Linked DNA regions of Homo sapiens: regions 2, 3 and 4 are each linked to region 1. The links come from fine-mapping of genetic effects on gene expression. A gene starts in region 1. Each other region holds a variant in brackets. All regions are shown on one strand. Distances are from middle to middle.

Region 1 (5,192 bases):
TCCTGTCCCAAGTGTCCTTGCTGTATTTGGAATTGAGCCCAGTTCTCTGCTGATGTCTCTCTTCCCCTATCACAAGAGTCCCGAATAAAAATCTGTTTCTACATCTGTAACCACAGTCCAGCTCTGGTTTTTCTTTGACAGTGTCCAAGGGCGGGGCTTCCTGTCACACCTCACTTCACTCCTTCTAAGGGGCCCCTCCACCTTCCCAAGAACTCACTTTCCATTTGGGGTCCAGGCAGCCACAGCTGGCAAGAGCTAGCCCGGAGGGAGGATGCGTGTGCTATGCCTGGGGGAGGGGGAATGCCCAGGATCTGCCATTTGACCATGGGGTGCCCGTGCCTGCTTGCAGCCCCCGTGGTGGGCATCCAGGCTGTACACCCCTGGCTGCACCAGCAGCTGTCCTGCTTTCTGCCGCGGCCTTCCATCTCATAGGGTTGGAGGGCACATCCCAGAGGGCACAGGGCTTTCAGTCCCTGCATGCAGGCTTGGGTTCCTTTAAGTAAATCCTTTTCAAACCCTCAGGTGGCTGAGGAACAGCGACCTGTACTTGGGAGGCCACATCTGGCTGCTAGATTTTGGGCAAGGGGCTTCATGCTCCAAACCTCAGTTTCCCTGTTCATCACATGGCCAGGGGCAGTCCTGAGGGCGCAGAAGTGGATGTGAAGGTGGGATGCTACCTTTCCCAAAAGGGGCTGGGGTCAAGGTTCCCTGAAGGTGGGCAGTGCCTGGAGCCCCTGCAGTCCCCACTGTGTCCCCCTTCCACTCCGTCGCCACCCTTATGGCTCTGACATCACTCAGGGGCAGGAGTGTGTGCAAAATAAACCCAGAGAAGTAAGTACTACACGTCATAACAGTGTGATGGATGCAGAAGAATTGGGGTCAGGCTGCATCCCACTGGGGCAAAAGAGGCCCTCTGGGGAAGCCCCCTCTGGGTCCTCCAGGGGAGCACCTGGAGGCCAGAGCCAGCCTGGACTCACCCAGGCACACAAGCAGATGAGAGGCCTGCAGGGACCCACAGGCTGGTCCACTACCCTCCTGCCCTGGGACGGCCCTGTACATGGGCCTGGGGCAGGCTGGGTCTGATGGCAGCCTGGCCTCCTGGGGAGCATGGACGGGGCTCACCTTCAGTGTTTGGGGACAGGGGTGGCTGCTGTATAGTGACCATGACTGGGCCCCAAGAATTTTGAGGTTTCCAGGTGACAACTGCACCCATTCTCCTGATGCCCCCTATGCCGGCCCTGATGGGAGGTCATGGCACAGGGGAGAACTGAGGCAAAGAGACAGATGGCGCATGGACTGCAGGGACCACTGTGCTGTCCGAGAAGGGGACACTGAGTTGGGCCCCCATTCCGGGTCAGGCTCTGGCATCTCAAATTAGAGCTGCTATGGGGGAACGGCCCACACAGGCAGGGAAGGAAAGAGGAAGGGAAACTGCTGCTGCTGGCTGGGAGAGTGCTGCTATTCCTTCCTTCACGGGTCTCCACTTCCTGGCTGGGGCCCAGTGCATTCACATCATGTGGGGCTAGGAGCTTCTTGTGGCGGGCTCCGGAGCTGGAAATGCCAGGCCTACGAGAGGGAAAGCAGGAAGGAAAGCGGGAGGGAAGTGGAGTTGGCCCAAGGTCACTCATTTTACAGTCCAGGAAACTGAGGCTCAGGCAGGTTAAGTGACCTCTCTAGTTCGGGTCACACTGTCAAGCTAGTGTCTTCTTTTGAAGGTGGGGGACTGGGGTCCCCCAAGAAGGTGTCCCCCCCCCACCCCGCCGAGCGAGGTCACACCGTTGAGTCCTTCTCCCCTGGATTTGGGAAAGCATCACTGGGCACTGCCTCCTTTGGCTGGTCCCTGTGGCGTACTGGACGCCCACCGGCCTTTTGCCCCAGGCCTGGCCCTGTACTCCCCAGGGCCTGACTTTCTGTATGACGTTGGATCAGTCACGTCCCCTCTCAGTTTCAGTTTTCTCATCCAAGGGGTGGGGCGCGAGGCCGGGAGCGGGGAGGTGGACTGAGCCGGCCGGCGGGCCACCTGGATCCCGACTCCGCCACTCAACGCGGCAGGGCCCGGAAGGGCGGGCCCAAGACGGGCAGGGCTCCGGGCAGGAGCGGGCGCCTCCAGGGAGGCGCGCGGCGGTCGTAGCTGAGGCCGCCTTGAGGGCGGGACTTGGACGCGGGCAGGGCTCGAGTGAGAGGCGGGGTTAAAGGCCGCTGCGACGGCGTTATAGACGCCGGCGGGACCGGGGCCCAGCGAGGGGAGGGACTCTGGGCCCCTCGCGGCGTCTTAACTGACGCTGGGAGGGGCGGGAGTCCGGTGGCGCCCGCCCACGCCCGCAGTCGCCCGCCCACGCCCGCAGTCGCATGGCAGAGCAGGAAGGGGCGGGGCTCAGGGCCCCTGGAGGCGCGGAGGCCGACGACGGAGGGGGGCGGGGCTCGAGTAAGGGGCGGGGCCCGGTGGGGGGTTCCTTGAGGCTCGGAAGCCGTCGTCGGAGGGGGCGGGGTTCAGGTGCAGGGCGGGGCTCAGAACTCCGGGAGAGGCGGAAGCCGACGCCGGAGGGGGCGGGGCTCGAGTGAGGGGCAAGGCTCCAGGATCCTCGCAGCGGCCTATCCCAGGACGGCAAGGGGGCGGGACTCGAGTGAGAGGGGCGGAGTTTAGAGCCCTGGGGGAGCCGTAGCGGGCGCGGAAGGGGCGGGGCCTAACGGTAGGGGGCGGGGCTCGTCAAAGGGCGGGGTTTAGAGTCCCCGAGGCTACACAGCCAAAGCCGGGGGGCTGGCCTAGCCAAAAGGGGCGGGCGAGCACGGCCCGCGGGCGGCGTTCGCTGGAGCTGGTGGACCGGGCGGCTGACCGAGGGGCGGACGCGCGGCGGGGCAGACCGCTGGGGACTGCGGGCGGCGCTGTGTCCGTCGCCATGACAGGTGGGCACGGGGTCGGCTGGGCGGCAGGGATGCGGGCGCCCTGGATGGGTGGCCCGGCCCGGGGGTCCGGCTGCCTTGCGAGTCGCCTGCAGGCCGCGCCTGGGCAGCGGGGGCCGAGTGACCTTGGCCCGTCAGCTGTCGGTGGTGCGCGAGTGCACCCCCGCGAAGTGGTGGGTGTCCCGGGGCTTCTACCCGGCGGGGCCGTGCCAGCCGAGGCGGTGCCGGGCATGATGGGTGGTGGCCAGGTGCGGGGCCCGAAGAGGGCGGGGGCTACAAGGCAGCTCCAGGGTGGGGCTGCACAGCCGCGGTCTGGGCTCAGCCACTGCCAATGTGTGTGTGTCCCGTGGTGGGGAATTTGGTCTGAAAGAGTAGGAGGTGGTAGAAATGACACCGGAGAGAATTCACAGCGGTCCTGCTGTGATTCTGGCCACGGAAACAACGCTCCATCCTTACAACCACCCCAGCGAGGTCGCGGGACAGGCGATGCGTTCCTCGGCGGCATGTGATTCCTGTGGGACTCTTGGAGTCTCCCAGACTCCTTCGGTGGTCCACGACGCTCTTGCCCCTGTTTAGTTCTAAGAGAATCGGGGACAGCGACTGGACCCCCCAAGGTTGTTGTGCTCCACGCTAGTGGCCCCAGCCCAGCCTTCCTCCCCAGGGCCTCTCTGGTCTGGGGACCTGCCCACCATCCTCCTGATCCCAAACAGGGTGACTCTGCCCTGTGGACCTTCCCCTGTTGGAGAAGCCCCATGAGGGTGATGGGCTGGTAAGGGACCCCATGGCAGCCCGGCCAGGGAGTATGGGGGTTCCCAGAAGCTACACTTCATTCTTACTGTTCTGTTTCATGGAGCAGAATTGGCTCAGGGGCTCAGGGTAGCCCCAGAAGTCCCTAGTCCTCTCTCGGTGCTCGCTCTCTTGAGTCTCAGCCTAGGTCCTGCCCACAAATAGGATCTCATGGGCTGGAAACTGATGACTTCCAGGACACCAGGCCAGAAGAGACTTCCAGCCTAGGCCACAAGAGACCCCAGCTGCCACCTGCTCCCCTTTGTCCTCCCTTCTAACTCTTCTTATTTGTGGCTCTCATTTCTGAGCACTTACTGTGCATTGGACCCTGTGTTGGGTGATTCCTGTTTGAAAATGATCAGATGGGGACACCTGGAATATCTCGTCTGTGTACAGATGGGGAAACAAAGTCTTAAATTGTGCCCTGCCCAGGCTGGGATTCCGTAATTCCCTTAGTGAGTTCATCAGAATGCGTGGGACACAACTCAGAGCTGTGTTGGTCTCCAGGGAGCCCTGTCCCAGGGACTGGGTGTTGGCAGAGCCTGAGGCCTTGCTGTCCATTAAGGAGCCTTCCTGCACAAAGGGACTTTGTCCCTTTCTGCCTGTCAGGGAAGCTTCCTTGCATAAGGGGACCCTGGAGCTGGGAAACCACATCAGGCAGGGGTCCCTGAAGGCTCTGACTATAGGCCTCACCTTGTCCAGTGTATGCTTCCTACCTGCTATGTCTACTCACTGGGCCTGGAGACATTCCCTCACAACCCTTAGTTTTTGGGATGGGGAACCAAGGCCCATGGAGCACAGCTCTGGGAGGGTCATATGGACAGCCCTGCGAGGCTGCAGACCCATAGTCCCAGGCTCACTGCCTCCATGCACCAACTGGGGTCCTGCCTTGCGCCAGCCCTCGCTGTGAGCAGCGCATGTGAGCCAGTGCCTGCAGAACGCTGAGGAGGTGTCTGCGTGGGGCAGGTGCTTGACAAGTTACCCCCTGGGCTGTGCCGGGGAGTGAGCAGTTTTAGTTGGGCTGAGCACTGAGAGAAGGGGTTTCCTGGAAGAAATTCGGGAGAGGAGGTTGATGCCCAAGTGTCTGGACTCCAGTTGGTTGGGGATGACAGGAACTCAGGAAGGCCTTTTGCACGTAGAACAGCAAGGTGAACATGAATTAACCAGGTGGAAACCAAGGAACAGGTATTCTCAGCCTGGGCTGAGATGTCTTGTGGGCCTAGAGGGCCCGGTGAGAGTGGGTGGGGCCAGCTCCCACGGGGCCTTGAATGCCAGGCTGAGGGCATCAGTCTGGGCTGATAAGAAGGTTCATATTGGGGTGTTTGAATGGGGGTCCATAGTCCTGGTGCCAGCCTGGCAAGAAGGAAGGGGATGTAGGGCGTGGTGAAGGCTTGCCAGGTCTGTGCCAGAGCGAGCCATCTTCCTTTGTCCTGTAAAAACAGTTCAGGGACTTGTTTATCGGGAGCTGGCACTGAGATGGTTTCCCTTCTTGTGCCTTTTCTGGC
Region 2 (5,192 bases), 61 kb before region 1:
AGAGGTGGGTGCTCCCAGCTCCTGCTCCCCTCCTGGTGGCGCGGCAGAGCCTCCAGACACCTGCTCCTGTGCCCCAGCAGCTCCAGCTGCCTCTGCTTTCGGAGTGTCCCTGGGACCAGGATAGATGTGGGTGTGTCTCAGTGGGGCCCCCAGGCTGGGAACACACTCGGAAGATCCCGTGTGTGCACGCTGGCTTCTCGGGACCAGCCAGGGCCAAGGCTTGGGAACCATTTGCATCCAGGAGTTAGATGGGAACAAGTGTCACTCCTGGTCACCTGGTTGGAGGGCATGGATTGAAGCTGCCCTCAAGTCCAGGCCTTGAGGCCCACCTGAGGGGAGATACTGCCCTTCTCTCTGCCTGCCTCACCTCCAGCTGTCAGAGGGTGAGCAGGGCCCTGGAGGCAGGCACCCCCTCCTCCTCCTCCCCGTCCCCTTCTCCTCCTCCTCCCCGTCCCCTTCTCCTCCTCCTCCCCGTCCCCTTCTCCTCTTCCTCTCCCTCCTTCCTCTCCCTCCGCCTCGCTGTCTTTCTCCTTCTCCTCTCCCTCCTCCTCCTGCTCCTTCTCCTCCCCGTACCCTTTTTCTACTCTTCCCTCTCCTTCTCCTCCTCCTTTCTCTCCCTCCTCCTCCCCCTCCCCTTCTCCTCCTCTCTTTCTCTTCCTCTTTTCCTCCTCCACTCCTCTTTCTGAGAGTAGCTGCTGCTTTCCCTGACTTCCTTCCTCAAGAATACAGTCTATTCTGGGGGGTTGCAGGACAGCTGAAAAAGAAAACGTGAGTTTCCAGAAAAGCACATCGCCCTTTCTCTCCACTCGACACAGCCTGCGGTTTGCAGTGCCAGCTGCACGTTGGAGTCTCCTGGGAAGCTTCTAGTGTTGATCTCCCTCCTAGAGGCTCAGTGAGGTGATCGGGGGGTCAGTGTGTTTTCAGAGTCCCAGCTGCTCTGACTTACAGCTGTGGTTGGAGCCCTGACCTAGGTCCTTGGTCTAAGAAGTCAAGGATGTAAGTCTATTAGGACTGAGTGTTGAATGGTCTTGATGGTGAAGAAGGACCTTGCACTGCCTACCGAGCTCCCTCATGCCTGCAATTTAAATACCGAGGTGTGTTCTGAGAGCCCCAGGTCCTTGGGGCACGGGCCTCCAGGGCCCTGTAAGGTGGACTCTGGCCTCGAAGGGGGGCCCAGGTCTGAGGGGTCCAGCTCTGGCAGGGGGTGTCTAAGCCACGTCCAAATGGTGGACAGTAGCTCCAACAGTGACATGACAGAGGGAGGGCCTGTGTGTGTGGTGTGTGTGTGTGTGCTGTGTGTGCACGCACGTGCATGTATATGGTGTGTGTAGAACTGACACGCTTGAAGTCCCTGTCCCGTGACCCACCCTCAGGTACTTGCTGTTGGGTTTTCCTATGATTTTGATGTGTCCTGACCCAGCATATGGATGCCCTCCCCTTGGAGGGCCCAGCCTGCAAACCCCATCTGATACCACACATGCCTATGTCCTGCAGGCTTCTAGTGACCCTTGCAAGCCGGGTGAGGCTGGTCCCAGTCTCTGTGCAGATCTTGGCCATGTCTCCACAGCCAGCTCCCCCCAAGCAGTGGCCCTGGCCCTACCCCAGCCTCCTCAGAACAGGGGTGACCACTGCAGGGGAGACTGCCCCTAACCTGTGTCTTTGTGTCCCCAGAAGACACCCACTGCAGACCCCCAGCCCAGCCTGCTCTGCGGCCCCCTGCGGCTGTCAGAGAGCGGTGAGACCTGGAGCGAGGTGTGGGCCGCCATCCCCATGTCAGATCCCCAGGTGCTGCACCTGCAGGGAGGCAGCCAGGTACGTGTCCCCACCCCACCAGGCCCTCAGGCCAGCAGCCCAGAGCCTCAGGCCTGAGGCACCCACAGCAGGCCTGTGCCACCAGCTGGGGTCCACCTGCTTGAGCAGTGTTACCTGGGGCCTCAGTTTCCCC[G/A]GCAGCGCAGGATTCCCTCTGCTTGCCAGTCACAGGAGACAGAACCTACTGGCACCTGGGTGGACCCCAGAGCCAGCCAGGGTGCAAGGAGGGGTGGGCCAAGGGGGCACAAAGGGTGGCCAGGAGCCACAGAACCTGTCAGGGGAGACTCAGGAACCCACACAGCCCTGGCCCGGCCCCTTGGAGCCCCAGTTGCTACTCTGTCACAGGGGCTGGCCTGTCCTGCCTCGCCTCCCCAGGGGCCAGACAGCCCAAAGAAGGCCATGGAGTCTGGGGGTCTGGTGAGGTGGGCAAGGCATCCCCCTCCCTATATCTCCCTCGGGAAGAACCAGTGGATGCCCCCACCGACCGTCCTCCTGTTGACAAAAGGCAGTGCAGGCACAGCCACCAGACCCCTCGGGCTCAGCACCTGCCTTGCGTTGCAAGGGTCTGGGAGTGGCCTCCTGGGAGAGGCCCCCATCACTGAGGTGAGCCCGAGGCCGGGAAGCTGTGGCCCCGCTGACCATCTGCTCCTCTGCTGCAGGACGGCCGGCTGCCCCGCACCATCCCTCTCCCCAGCTGCAAACTGAGTGTGCCGGACCCTGAGGAGAGGCTGGACTCGGGGCATGTGTGGAAGCTGCAGTGGGCCAAGCAGTCCTGGTACCTGAGCGCCTCCTCCGCAGAGCTGCAGCAGCAGTGGCTGGAAACCCTAAGCACTGCTGCCCATGGGGACACGGCCCAGGACAGCCCGGGGGCCCTGCAGCTTCAGGTCCCTATGGGCGCAGCTGCTCCGTGAGCTGAGTCTCCCACTGCCCTGCACACCACCACATTGGACCTGTGCTGTCCTGGGAGGTGGTGTTGGAGGCCCCATGAAGAGCGCCCTGGACTGCTGAGGGTGGGCCAACAGCCCAGAGCTCAGGACACTTGGCTTTGGGGGGAAGGAAACTGAGGCCCAGAGAGGGGCAACCACTGGCCAAGGGTCACCCAGCAAGTTTTGGCTAAGAGCCTGGCCTCCAGCCCCAGCAGTGTGGCCCAGAGCAGGGGCCGACTGCCAAAGTAACCATCATCCATATGGGCCGTGTGGTGATGCTGGCCCGGAAGGCAGAAAGAGGCAGCATGGGCACTGCCAGGGACAGCCACATCCTGCTGGTCTGCAGCGTGGTCCACCCCGCCTCTGCCCAGCCTGTCTACACCGTGTGAGCTGAATCGTGACTTGCTTCCCACCTCCTTTCTCTGTCCTCTCCTGAGGTTCTGCCTGCAGCCCCCAGGAGGTGGGCCTGCCCCATCCTAGCTGGACTCATGGTTCCTAAATAACCACGCTCAGAAGCTCTGCTAGGACTTACCCCAGCCACTGAGTGGCAGGCGCATGAGATTTGTGGCTGTTCCTGATGCTAGTGGCACACAGTGCTTATCTGCATAAATAAACACTGGCCACCAGCAGTGGGCGCAGCCTCGGTGATCTCTCCCCAGCCCCTCAGCAGCGTCCCCCCACAAGGTGGGCTGGCTGATAAAGGGTTGAGGGACAAGGGTGATGGAATCACATCGGCCACACACCACCTGGAAAGCAGTTCTGCATCTGTTGTCCTGCCAGGGGGTGGGCAGGTGGCAGGTGAAGATGGCCAGGCTCAGAGATGGGGAGGGTGGGGTGCAGGGCACTCAAGATGGTGCCAGTGGGGACCTTGCAAAGGCTACTTGGGGTGGGGGTGCTGTTTGCATCAGAGCCCTGAGGGCCTCTGGGAGAGAGTGGGGGAATTTAGGGACCAGTGATTGGGGGTGCTCACTGGTCAGGACCCCCGCCCCTCTAATATCCATATAGCACCATGTGGAGACACCTGGGAAGACAAGCAGGGCACCTACCTGGGGGACTGAGAGGGCAGGAGGAAGAGCCAGAAATGGGAGACTGGTCACAGGTGATGGGGGGGACAGGTGAGATGAGAACACAGGTGAGGCGGAGACAGCTGAGATGGGGGCACAGGTGAGGGCACAGGTGAGCTCCCACGAGCTCTAGCTGGGCCACGCTTGGGATGCTGCTGCAGCCACTGCACACGGAGCCCCTGCTGGCTACCTGGGCCTCTGCCACAGCTTCCCATGCTATGCTGGATGTTCTGGTCCCACTTCACACTAAGGAAACTGAGGCTCAGGGATGCTAAACAACCTGCATACTTCCACATTGGACAGTGCCCACCAGGGGGAGATGGAATCAGACCCTTTCAGCTGCACAGCAGCGTCTCAATCGGCTCCAGCTGCTGCCCAAGGAAGCAGCAAAGCCCCTCACCCAGCTCAGGCTGGAGCAGGGACGGGGTGGAGGAGGCCTCGAGGGGACCCCAGCCCGTTGGCCCTGCCTTCTCCCCTGCAGAGCTGAGCTCTGACTCACATTCATCCCCTACAGAGCAGTGCCGGAGCCGCTCCCTCACACACGTCTACTAAGCATCGGCTGCAGCCCTAATGAGGCCCTTCTTTGAAGGGTCAGGACTCCGTCCTCTGCCTGCTTCAGTAGTTCTATTTCTGCCATCTCACCACAACCCCAGGAAATCCCCACTTGACAGCTGAGGAAACTGAGTCATAGAGAGGCCACCCCCAGAGCCCCACAGCTCCGGAACCGAGCAGGCACCTGGAATTGGCCTGCCGGCCATGGTGAATCCAGCAGGGCAGGTGTCTGCTGGGGCCAAAGACTGTGCTGTGGGGTCGCCATGGAGAGTCCCCTAGCCTCGAGCCCTCTCTCTTGCACCCACCAACCTGGCTAGTCCGCTGGGAGGCAGAGACAAGGTCTGTCACCGCAGGCCTGGGGGCAGGGCGTGCCCCCAGACTCTGCCGCCTGCTGCGAGGCCAGTGCTGATGGGAGCTTGTTTGCTGTCATACTGGTGGCTGTAGTCTGTTCCCACTTTTTCCAAAAGAGGAAGCTGAGGCTCAGACAGGGGCAGTGAGAGGCCTCCAGCATGCAGAGCCTGCGTGCTGTGCCCTTACAGAGCTGGCCTTCCTAGGGTCTGTTCCCAGAGACCCCTCCTGCGGGACACCCCAGCAAGGATGCTGCTGGGGAGCTGGCTGCCTGGGCCTGGCCTCTCGCCACACACTGCCCCGCCCCCAGCTCCAGCCCTCCCATCCCACAGCCCAGGGCCTGGGCACACTCCACTGCCCGTCCATGGAGTGGCAGAGCCTGGACACATGCTGGCTGGTCGCATGCTGGCTTTTGGCCTCTTTACCATCCTCCCTCCCCTTTCTCCCCAAGGCCACCCCCCTCCAGAGGCATAGGAGACCACCCCCTGGGTGG
Region 3 (5,192 bases), 220 kb after region 1:
GAGGTCTAGTAATAGGTTTCTCATTATTGTTTAATTTGCCTTAGAGCAAATTAAACAATTTTCATATTCTTATATTTTCATATTCTTATCAGCCGTCTTTTAAAAAGTGCCTGGTCAAGGATAGTGACCATTTAAAAGTTGATTTGTTTAACTTTTTATTATTGATTTGTGGGAGTTCATCATATATCTTTTGTCATATACAAGGGGGCTTCCAAAAGTTCACAGAAAAATGGAATTAAAAGATAAAAGTAAGAAATATATGGCTGGCCATGGTAGCTCACACCTGTAATCCCAGCACTTAGGGAGGCTGAGGCAGGTGGATTGATTGAGTCCAGGAGTTCAAGACCAGCCTTTGCAATATGGCAAAACCTCATCTCTACAAAAAATATAAAAATTAGCTGGGCTGCTGGGTGCAGTGGCTCACGCTTGTAATCCCAGCACTTTGGGAGGCTGAGGCGGGTGGATCACCTGAGGTCAGGAGTTCAAGACTAGCCTGGCCAACATGGTGAAACCCTGTCTCTACTAAAAGTACAAAAAAAAAAAAAAAATTAGCCCAGCATGGTGGTGGGCTTCTGTAATCCCAGCTACTCAGGAGGCTGAGGCAGGAGAATCGCTTGAACCTGGGAGGCAGAGGTTGCAGTGAGCCGAGATTGTGCCATTGCACTCCAGCCTGGGCGACAAGAGCAAAAGTCCGTCTCAAATAAAAATAAAAAAACAGCTGGGCATGGTGGTGCATACCTATAGTTACAGCTACTAAGGAGGCTGAGGTGAGAGGATCGCTTGAGCCCAGGAGGTCAAGGCTGCAGTGAGCCGAGATAGTGCCACTGCACTCCAGCCTGGCGACAGAGCAAGACCCTGTCTGAAAAAAAAAAAACAGCTGGGCATGGTGGCACATACCTATAGTTACAGCTACTAAAGAAGAAATACACGCTTTTTTCTTAACACAAGCACCATCAAGTTCAAGACACTTATAAGCAATGATGCCAGCCATTTATAAGCAATGATGCCAGCCATTTATAAGCAATGATGCCAGCCATTTAGTCCCTCCCTAAAGACCTAATGGTCCTGGGAATTTAACCATGGCCATGGAGTCTTTTTTACATTATTAATTGACAAAAAATGGGTGCCCTTTACAGATGTTTCAAAATTAGGAAGCAAAAAGAAGTCAGAGGGAGCCAAATCAGGACTGTAGGGTAGATGCCTGATGATTTCCCATGGAAACTCTTGCAAAATCACCCTTCTTTGGTGAGAGGAACGAGCAGGAGCATTGTCGTGATGGAGATGGACTCTCTGGGGAGGCTTTCCCGGGGGGGGTTTTGCTGAAGCTTTGGCTAACATTCCCTAAACATTCTCATACTAAGCAGATGTTACATTCCTTGTTACCCCTCCAGAAAGTCAGCAAGCAGAATGCCTTAAGCATCCCAAAAGCTGTTGCCACAATGTGCTCTTGACTGGCCCACTTTTGCTCTGATGGGACCACTTCCAGCCCTCAGCACCATTGCCTTGACTGCACTTGGTCTTCAGGACCATACCAGGAAAGCCACGTTTCATGTCGCTATAGTTCAAAGAGAGCTTCAGGATCTCCATCCCACTTGTTCAAAGTTACCACTGACAGCTCTGCTCTTCTCTGCGCCTGATGTGGGCGCAATGGGTTTGGCACCCATTGAGTGGAAAGTCTGCTCAACTTTCATTTTTCTGTCAGAATTGTGTAAGCTCAACCTACTGAGCTGTCTGTGGTGTTGGCCACTATTTCTGCTGTTAACCACCCGTCCTCTGCACTTACGGCTCAGACCAGATGAGTGTTTTCCTCACAAAGTGATGCGGATGGCCTGCCGCTGTGGGCTCCGTCTTCAGCATGGTCTCATCCCTTCTTAAAACAAGTCAACCATTTGTAAACTGCTATTTTCTTTGGGGACATGGACCCTGTAAACTTTTCAGAAAGCATCAGTGATCTCACCATTCTTCCACCCAAGCTTCACCATACATGTGATGTTGGTTCTTGCTTGGCAGAATTCACGTTATTGTGATAGGGGCTCTTTTCAAACTGAAGTCTTCTCCTTCTTAGTGCCTCAGACTACCTCCTCTTCAGACATGCTGCAATAAGTTAGTACAAGTTTATTTGGGTACAAAGATTTTTTTTGAAAGTCATGCATAGTTTTTTCATGGTATGTCTTTTCCATGAACTTTTTGAAGACCCCTTGTGTGTGTGTGTGTGTGTGTGTGTGTGTGTGTGTGTGT[G/A]TATATAATGGATATAGTCTACCAATCTGTGGTTTGTGTTTTCACTTTCTTAATGGTGAACATGAAATGGTAAAAATTTTAATTTTTTTTTTCCTAAAAGCTTTGCAGCTTTAGCTATTGCTTTAGATCCCATGAGCCATCTCAAATGAACTCTTGAGTATATTTTGATGCAGAGGTAAATCTGTTTTTTTCCTCTCTGCATATCTGATCGTTCCAGCCCCTTCCTCTCCATATTGAATTGCACTGAATTGAGCAGACATTCGTCAAGTGGTCGTCTGTGTGTAGGTCCATTTCTGAATTTGCTATTTTGTTTGCTTTAGCAATTCCCTTATCATTGTGGCAACACCACACTCTCTTCATGACTGAAGTTTTCTAGGAAGTTTAATCTTTGCTCAGGAAAGACTTTCAGTGTTGATCTTCTTCAAGAAGTTCTTGATTTTTTTCAGGTCGTTAATATTTCCATATGTTTTAGGAACAGCCTGTCACTTTCTGCAGGCTAGCCCACTGGGATTTCGGCTGGGAGTGGATTCAGTCTGTTGATTATCTGGGTGAGGTTTGACATATGAACAACATGAGCGTTCCTGTGAATGTAGTGTCCGTTTACTGGCATCTTTTTTGTTTCTCTGCAGTGTAAAGATGTTATACCTCTTTCATTAAATTTATCCCTAGGTAGCTGATGTTTTGGAATGCTATTATAAATGTTATTTTTCTTTAAATCTCCTTTTCCAGCTTCCTGTTGCTAGAATATAAAACTATGGTTGACTTTCGTACCCCATATCCTGCAATTGTGCTAAATTTGCTATTAGTTCTAGAAATTGGTTTGTCCATTCTTGTGGGTTTTCTGCATACACAGTCTTGTCATCTGCATGAGGCCAGTTCTCCTTCTCTCTGTCCAGTCTGTGCGGTTGACTCCTTTTCCTCCCCGCCTGGAGATCCCCGTGGTGTCGACTGGAAGCATGGAGGCACCTTGGGGAGGTATTGGGCATTTTGTCGTGGGCAGGGGCTCAGCTGTCGGTTCCATAGAGGACCTTCCAGATAAGGAGGCCCCTCCAGCCCCTGACTGCCGAGCTTGATTTCCAGGAAGGGTTGTGGAAGTCACCGAGTGCCCTCCATGCACCTGTGAAGAGTGCCCAGTGGGGCCCTCCCTGGAGTGGAGAGGAGTGACTCCCCGTGGCCAGCAGCCTTGCCTTCCTGGGGCACACCCCGCATACAGCTTCTCCCCGGGCTGGGACAGTGGAAGGGCTGCCTTGCCATCACCTCCCTGCACACTTGCTTTGCCCAGGTCCTGGGGCTCTGCTCCTGCCAGCTCCTGGGTGGTTCATGCTCCTGTGAGGGCACTGACCAGCCAAGCAGGAGGGCTTTGTGGTGGCTGAGTAGAGGCATGTGGGGTCACTCATGCGCCCTCAGGGTCCAGGCCCCACTAGTCCTCCTCCAAGTCCCATTTTGGCTGGTGGACACCCAGGTGTGTGGCCTAGAGGCTATCAGGCTGCAGCTTGGGGAAGCAAACAAGGGAGGGTGATGGTTCCTGGCCCCACACCATCATTCTGGTGTCAGCCCTGAGAGGGTGCCTGTCACAGCAGGTTCCAGGACTGCTGCCTCCTGAGGATGGAGAAACTGTGGCACCCTGGGGGCCACTAAGGGAGGCCAGCTGATTGCAGCCACGTGTACCTTCCTCTTCTCGTCTCTGTGTTTTGTAGATGACCGCACCTCGAGCAGGAGTGGGGATGCCACGTCTGCCCCCAGCGCCCGGCCCTCTGTCCACCACGGTCATTCCCGGAGCCGCCCCGACCCTGTCCGTGCCCACACCAGGTACTGCCCTCTCCAACCTCCCAACCCCACCCTGTGCGCTGCCTCTGGGTCAGTACAGAGGCCTGCTCCCAGCTCCAGTGTCCTGGGGGCCCTGGGCAGGCCAGGTGGGCCAGCTGGGGGCACAGGGCAGCTGGAACACCCCCCAGGTGCCCGTGCTGCCAGTCTTCTTGCAGCCACCTGTGGTCAGCATGCCTGGCCCCCGGCTGCGGATCACGTAGCCTTCTGCCCTGTCCCTTGCCAGATGGCGCCCTCGGAACCGCCCGGAGAAACCAGGTGTGGTTTGGCCTCCGAGTCCCCCCCACCGCCTGCTGTGGGCACAGCACTCAGCCGCGAGGGGGACAGCGGGTGGGCAGCAAGACTGCTTCCTTTGCGGCTTCAGACCCTGTTCGCTCCTAGGTTCCTGTGGTCCACGCGCCGTCTCCACACCCACTTCCTATACTTGAGTTGATGGTTAGAACCTTGTCGTCACCCTGCAGAAGTACAGTGCCTTGAATGCCAGCTTTTCCGTTCCCTGATGAAAAGATATGTTAAAAAAAATTATCGGAAAAGGTTTCATTTGCAATTGGCTTGTGCATTGATAATCTTTATTTACTGTTTTAAGTTGCAGAGATGTGAATGGTTTACAAATCTGAAGCTGAAGTTCAATCTTTGGTTTTCTGTTGTAAATGCCTTTTACAAACATTGAATTAGCTACCTTAAGTATTGAAGAGCTTCCATTGCTAGGTGAGCCCTGCTTTGTCCTCAGTAGAGTGCCGGTTCCCTGGGCTCATCCAGGGGCTGAGAGACGGCGGGACGCTGGGGCAGGGCACACTGGCGGAGCTGCTTGCTCAGTAGGGAATGTCAGTTGTTGCGCTGGGCCATGAGAAATCCGCCAGAAAACGTTAGGTGAGCAGACATGCCCCCCATGCCAGTGGGCTGCTGTGAGTGAGGATAAGGTGTGTGTTGGGCATAGAAACCCTGGCTGCCCGCCCACCCTGTGGAGACAAGTGCAGCTCCTCCAGCTGGAGAGGCTGCCCTCTCTCCTGCCCACTTCCCTCCCTTCTCCATGATTTCCATGGAGACCTGTGGCTCTGCTCACCCCTGGCATGCAGACCGCTCTCCCGTCCAGCCCTAAGCCTGCTCTGCGGAGGGCGGGGTCATTCTTC
Region 4 (5,000 bases), 680 kb before region 1:
GTGGAGTGTAGTGGTGCAGGCTTGGCTCACTGCAGCCTCCACCTCCCCGGTTCAAGTGATTCTCCTGCCTCAGCCTCCCAAGTATCTGGGACTACAGGCGCGTGCCACCACGCTTGGCTAATTTTTGTATTGTTAGTAGAGACGGGGTTTCTCCATCTTGGCCAGGCTGGTCTCTAACTCCTGACCTCAGGTGATCCACCCACCTCAGCCTCTCAAAGTGCTGGGATTACAGGCGTGAGCCACTGCGCCTGGCCGAGATTTTTTTTTTTTTTAAGTCACATATTACACTGAACTTGAGTCAAAAGTCTGGTATACTAGACTTTCTACTAAGTAACCATCTTTTAAGAGTCCCAGTTTCTCTTGCTTACTAGGGTATAGATCTATGATAATAGCATGACATCAGTCAACTACAGTCTGATCCCTCCACTGTAAATGCTGTGTGTTCTTTGGAATTACCTGATCCTTTAATGATGGTCACTGCCTGGGGGAGGAAAGACCTTTATTTTAGTTAGAGAGCTTTTGCCTGGGAGATTCTACAACTTCTATTTGCTGATACCTTTTTCTGCCCTTCAGAAGAACGTGAAATGCTCCCTTTTGTGTGATAACTTCAGATATTTAGAAATAGTATTCATGTTTCCTTTTAATATTTTCTGTCCAAAACTAACAGCACCATCAAATTTTCCTCATGAAACAGTTTCCAGAATCCAATTATTTAGTCTCCGACTCTGCTTGAATAACTACTTTAAATCCTAAAGACATACAGTGTTTACATTCTACAAAGTTCAAGTGTCTTTACATTTTTCTTCCTAGCTTCCTTTTTTCCATTAATATATTTAAGTTTTAGATACAAAAATATTATTAAAAACACACTGTCCTTGTCTCCCAGGTGTTTAAAGTCTTGTGGAGAATCAAATACACGTGCAGTAGAATGCAGGAGGAGGATATTGTGTGGAAAAGAATTGCAAAAGGGCACACTTCACAATGAACACTCAGTGCTGAAACTTGAAGTTCTAGGGAAGGGTCAATTATGTCCCAGATGAGAAGCCTGAAACCTATATTTCATTTCTGTCACTTAACATATCTGCCTCTTGCCTCATCAATAAAATAAGAATTGCAATTATAGCTGAATTATACCTTGGCTGCTTATCTTGTATGTTGCCTTGTGTCTTTTTTTTTTTTTTTTTTTGAGATGGAGTCTTGCTCTGTTGCCCAGACTGGAGTGCAGTGGTGCGATCTCGGCTCACTGCAGCCACCACCTCCTGGGTTTAAGCAATTCTCCTGCCTCAGCCTCCCCAGTAGCTGGGATTACAGGTGCACTCCACCACACCCGGCTAATTTTTGTATTTTTAGTAGAGATGGAGTTTCACCATGTTGACCAGGCTGCTCTCGAACTCCTGACCTCATGATCCACCCACCTTGGGCTCCCAAAGTGCTGGGATTACGGGCGTGAGCCACTGCATCCAGCCTCCTTGTGTCATATCTTGCCTGCTTATCCGCCTGGTCGTTGTTAGCATTGTATGAGCTATGCATGTACAAGTACTTTGCACGTTGAAAACTGCTATCCAGATGAAATGAATGTATCATTTAGGAAAAAGGTTTTAAAAAATCCTACCTCTTTTATTCTGAGACCTTTCTACTTTTCCCACCCAGGGTTTCATGAGAGAATGAGTTTCCAAACAAATCATTGCATATAATGAAATGACTTATCTCCTGTTCATGTAGAATGGTTCTAGCTATTTTTCATCATTGGTATAATTGAGAGAATAGTTACTTAAGTTATTTTCTTTGACAGAACCCCATTTGAGAAAGGTTAAGAAACATCTCAATTTCTTCTTCTTTTCTTGTCAGAAATTATAAATGTAACTATTGTGTGTATTTGGAATTTGAAGTAGTTATTCAGGTAGAGTCAGAGACCCTTGAGCTCTCTTCCTGCAGTGATACTTTCCTTCATTCTTCCTCACCATTTGCTCCCATGCACCCGCATCCTGGGTTTTGTCTTTTCTATTACTGGAACCCTTCATACTCTTCATTTTGAGTATTCCGCACTCAGACCACTATCTCTATGTAGTAACTCCAGCTGCAATAATTCTCCAATTTCCGTGGAACCTCAGCTATATTGATTCTACTGTTTTTCACTGTCCCTCATCCATACCTCCCAACATTGTCAGTTCCTTCTTACCAACTTAGACCCCATAGTTGATCACTATCGTTGCTCTTTTGCACATGCCCTAAACTTTCTGGCTCCTTCAATCTGCCAAACTCCAACTCTGGTTACTCCAATTCTCTACCTACTCACAGCCTGACTGTCACAGCTGAATGTAACTAAAGAAAAACAGGAGCATGGTGACTGGTCTCACTCTCGATTCAAGACCACTAACCTCAAGTGCTGTCCTGCTGCATTTCCTTAGACCATCCTCCTTCCCTCTCTTCTACGCTACTGTTTTGTAACTTTCCTCTCTGAAGCCTCTAATACCTTATTCCCCATTATTGTTTTTGGGTGATGACCTTGCTTCTTTTTTTTAAGTCAAGAAAATAGGATCAAGATATCATTTATTTCTATTTTCTTATATGTATCCCTACCTACAAGAAAATGCCAAAATAGCAATGGTTTGGGTTTTGTTTTTGTTTTTTTTTTAACAATATGTGCTTTTGAAATTCATGATGTTTCTTTGTGCAACTCTATATTACATCC[A/ATCCG]TTTTTCTTTCTTTTCTGTGAGATTCGTGGAAGATGTGGCATTTGACCTAGACTTTGAAGGAGTGTTGAGGTTCTCATAGAGGGAAGTGAGGAAGAAGATCTCTGGCTAGAAGAGATGAGCAAAAACATAGAAGCAACAGATGGTGATGTGTTTGGGAAATGTGGTTGGTTAACTCTTGAAGGAGCAAAATAAGACTATTAAATCCAGATCTGAAGGGATTAGCCTAACTTTTTTTTTCTGAGACAGTCTCACTCTGTCACCCAGGCTGGAGCGCAGTGGTGCACTCTTGGCTCACCCTCCATCTCCTGGGCTCAAGTGACTCTCTTACTTCAGCCTCCTGAGTAGCTGGGATTACAGATGCGTGCCACCACACCTGGCTAATTTTTTAATTTTTTGTAAAGACAGGGTTTTGCCATGTTGCTCAGGCTGGTCATGAACTTCTGGGCTCAACCAGTCTGCCCCCCTCAGCCTCCCAAAGTGCTGGGATTACAGGCATGAGCCACCACCCCCGGCCTTGGAGGGCCTAAATTCTGACCTGAGGAATTTGCACTCTGGGAATGAATGCCTAATTTAATGAATTAACATATTTGGGCTGTGATTTCACACTACAGTCAGTGTTCGTGGGTGAAAAAGTAGAGAATCTTGGAAGGAGGTAGATTTAAGGAGTTATGGTATCATACCAAAGGGCAGTGTTCAGAGCAGGCTCTCCTTGCTGGGCTGGAAGCTCCCAGTGGGTCTGCTTGGAAATGCTTATTCACCTAGTGTACTCTACTACTTTACTGTATGTAAACATGCTTAGTGAAGCACTTTACAAATATTAGTAGTTAGTTTGATTGGGTTACATCAGTTTACCGTTGTCCTGAATTATTTCTAGTGATGAGGCACTATGCTAAGTTGGTGGAGAATACAGAAATGAAGAAGACGTGAAGCCATAGTCCCTTCTGTAAAGAGCAAACAGCTTAGTGGAGGAGAGAGATACAACAAAGTGAACCCTAATCTAAGGCAGAGGGTAATATCCTTTATAGCAGAGATAGGCAATGCTGTGGGGCCAGTGGCTTACCTCAGCCTTACGGAGACAGGAAAGTCTTTTGTAGACATCATTTGACCCAGACTTTGGGAGATTAATAGGAATGGATATAGAATATTCTATACATTTTATACTCATTGATGATATTTTATGTATAATTTTATAATATTTTATTGTACTTATTATAGTATAACATATTAACTTTTTTTTTTTTGGAGACAAGAGTCTCGTGCTGTCACCCAGGCTGGAGTGCAGTGGCACAATCTCGGCTCACTGCAACCTCCGCCTCCCAGGCTCAAGTGATTCTTGTGCCTCAGCCTCCTGAGTAGCTGGGATTACAGGCGTGCACCACCACGACTGGCTACATTTTTTTGTATTTTTAGTTAAGACGGGATTTTGCCATGTTGGCCAGCCTGGTCTCGAACTCCTGACCTCAGGTGATCCGCCCACCTCAGCCTCCCAAAGTGCTGAGATTACAGGTGTGAGCCACCTGCCTGGCTGAAAACTCAGCTTGAATTTTATCCCTTTGTTGAGAACATTAGCTAATCATCAGTTATCAACCTTACATTTGAGAATTAGAGTCTGTTGTTCAACAACTATGAAAAATTGTTGGGAAAAAAGAAGAAGGCCTTGAATCAAGACATGACTGGGGCGTCTCTGAAAATAAAGAGGTTTTTAATATTGTCTGCTTTCCGCCTTTGTGAGCACCTAAGAAGAAAGTCTTTCCTTGAGGAACAATTTCTCTTCTAAACCTGAACTTATCTTAAACATCCTTGTCCTCCTCCCTCCACGTTCCTAACCATGTAGTACAATCTTGTCCCACTCCCTTTGATTAAGTGCAGTTTTCTGTTTTGAAATCCATCCTGTTTTCATCTATATGCTCATTATTTTCTATGCCTCTTGCTCTTTCCCCAGGATAATTTCCCCTGTTACAACAATCTCTTATTTTATCCAAATTTTTCATTCCCCAACTAATCTCTTCTGAGTCATTTGCTAAGCATATTTTTGTTACTTCTGCTTTTCATACTCTACAATGTATGCCTTGTTCTCTATAGGATAACTCACAGCAATATTGTATAATTCATTGTTGATCATCTCATTTCCTAATATCTTTTAACAGAATCTAATACAATGCAGTGTTATAAGTGCTCAAAGGTGTGTTGAATGAATAAGTTAATAAGTTATAGGTTAAGGCTTGCTAGCAAATGCTTCTCTCTACTAATGTTGATTATTCCTAGGCATTTATTTCACTATGATAATTTCTTCAAATGAACATATTC

The links. PIP is the estimated chance that this variant, and not a neighbour inherited with it, causes the effect. A credible set is the group of variants that fine-mapping cannot tell apart.
Region 2: its variant is the best candidate, but not a certain one, in a credible set for the expression of CARD19 in whole blood (TOPMed, PIP 0.67).
Region 3: its variant is the best candidate, but not a certain one, in a credible set for the expression of CARD19 in whole blood (INTERVAL, PIP 0.73).
Region 4: its variant is the best candidate, but not a certain one, in a credible set for the expression of CARD19 in hippocampus (GTEx, PIP 0.57).

What each region holds. Positions count from the first base shown.
Region 1 is chr9:93,093,449-93,098,640 of GRCh38, forward strand. CARD19 (caspase recruitment domain family member 19) reads left to right here and starts at 2,769. Exons shown (of 6, transcript NM_032310.5): 1 at 2,769-2,904. The coding sequence starts at 2,898. It overlaps LOC101927993 (a long non-coding RNA gene), which reads right to left and starts at 2,062. Exons shown (of 4, transcript NR_188444.1): 1 at 1,920-2,062; 2 at 1,123-1,566. RefSeq lists enhancers at 1,757-1,806, 5,000-5,069 and silencers at 1,917-2,226, 2,247-2,996, 3,017-3,126.
Region 2 is chr9:93,032,870-93,038,061 of GRCh38, forward strand. It overlaps FGD3 (FYVE, RhoGEF and PH domain containing 3), which reads left to right. Exons shown (of 18, transcript NM_001083536.2): 16 at 1-4; 17 at 1,672-1,812; 18 at 2,469-3,364. The coding sequence ends at 2,720. Among named protein-coding and RNA genes, the nearest start is that of SUSD3, 23 kb to the right of the region's middle. RefSeq lists enhancers at 2,098-2,891, 3,718-4,611. The variant G/A (reference allele first, on the strand shown) is at 1,946.
Region 3 is chr9:93,313,585-93,318,776 of GRCh38, forward strand. WNK2 (WNK lysine deficient protein kinase 2) reads left to right here. Exons shown (of 30, transcript NM_006648.4): 29 at 3,936-4,047. Among named protein-coding and RNA genes, the nearest start is that of WNK2, 130 kb to the left of the region's middle. The variant G/A (reference allele first, on the strand shown) is at 2,239.
Region 4 is chr9:92,418,133-92,423,132 of GRCh38, forward strand. All of the region lies in intron 5 of CENPP (centromere protein P), which reads left to right. All of the region lies in intron 1 of OMD (osteomodulin), which reads right to left. Among named protein-coding and RNA genes, the nearest start is that of OMD, 3.8 kb to the right of the region's middle. The variant A/ATCCG (reference allele first, on the strand shown) is at 2,693.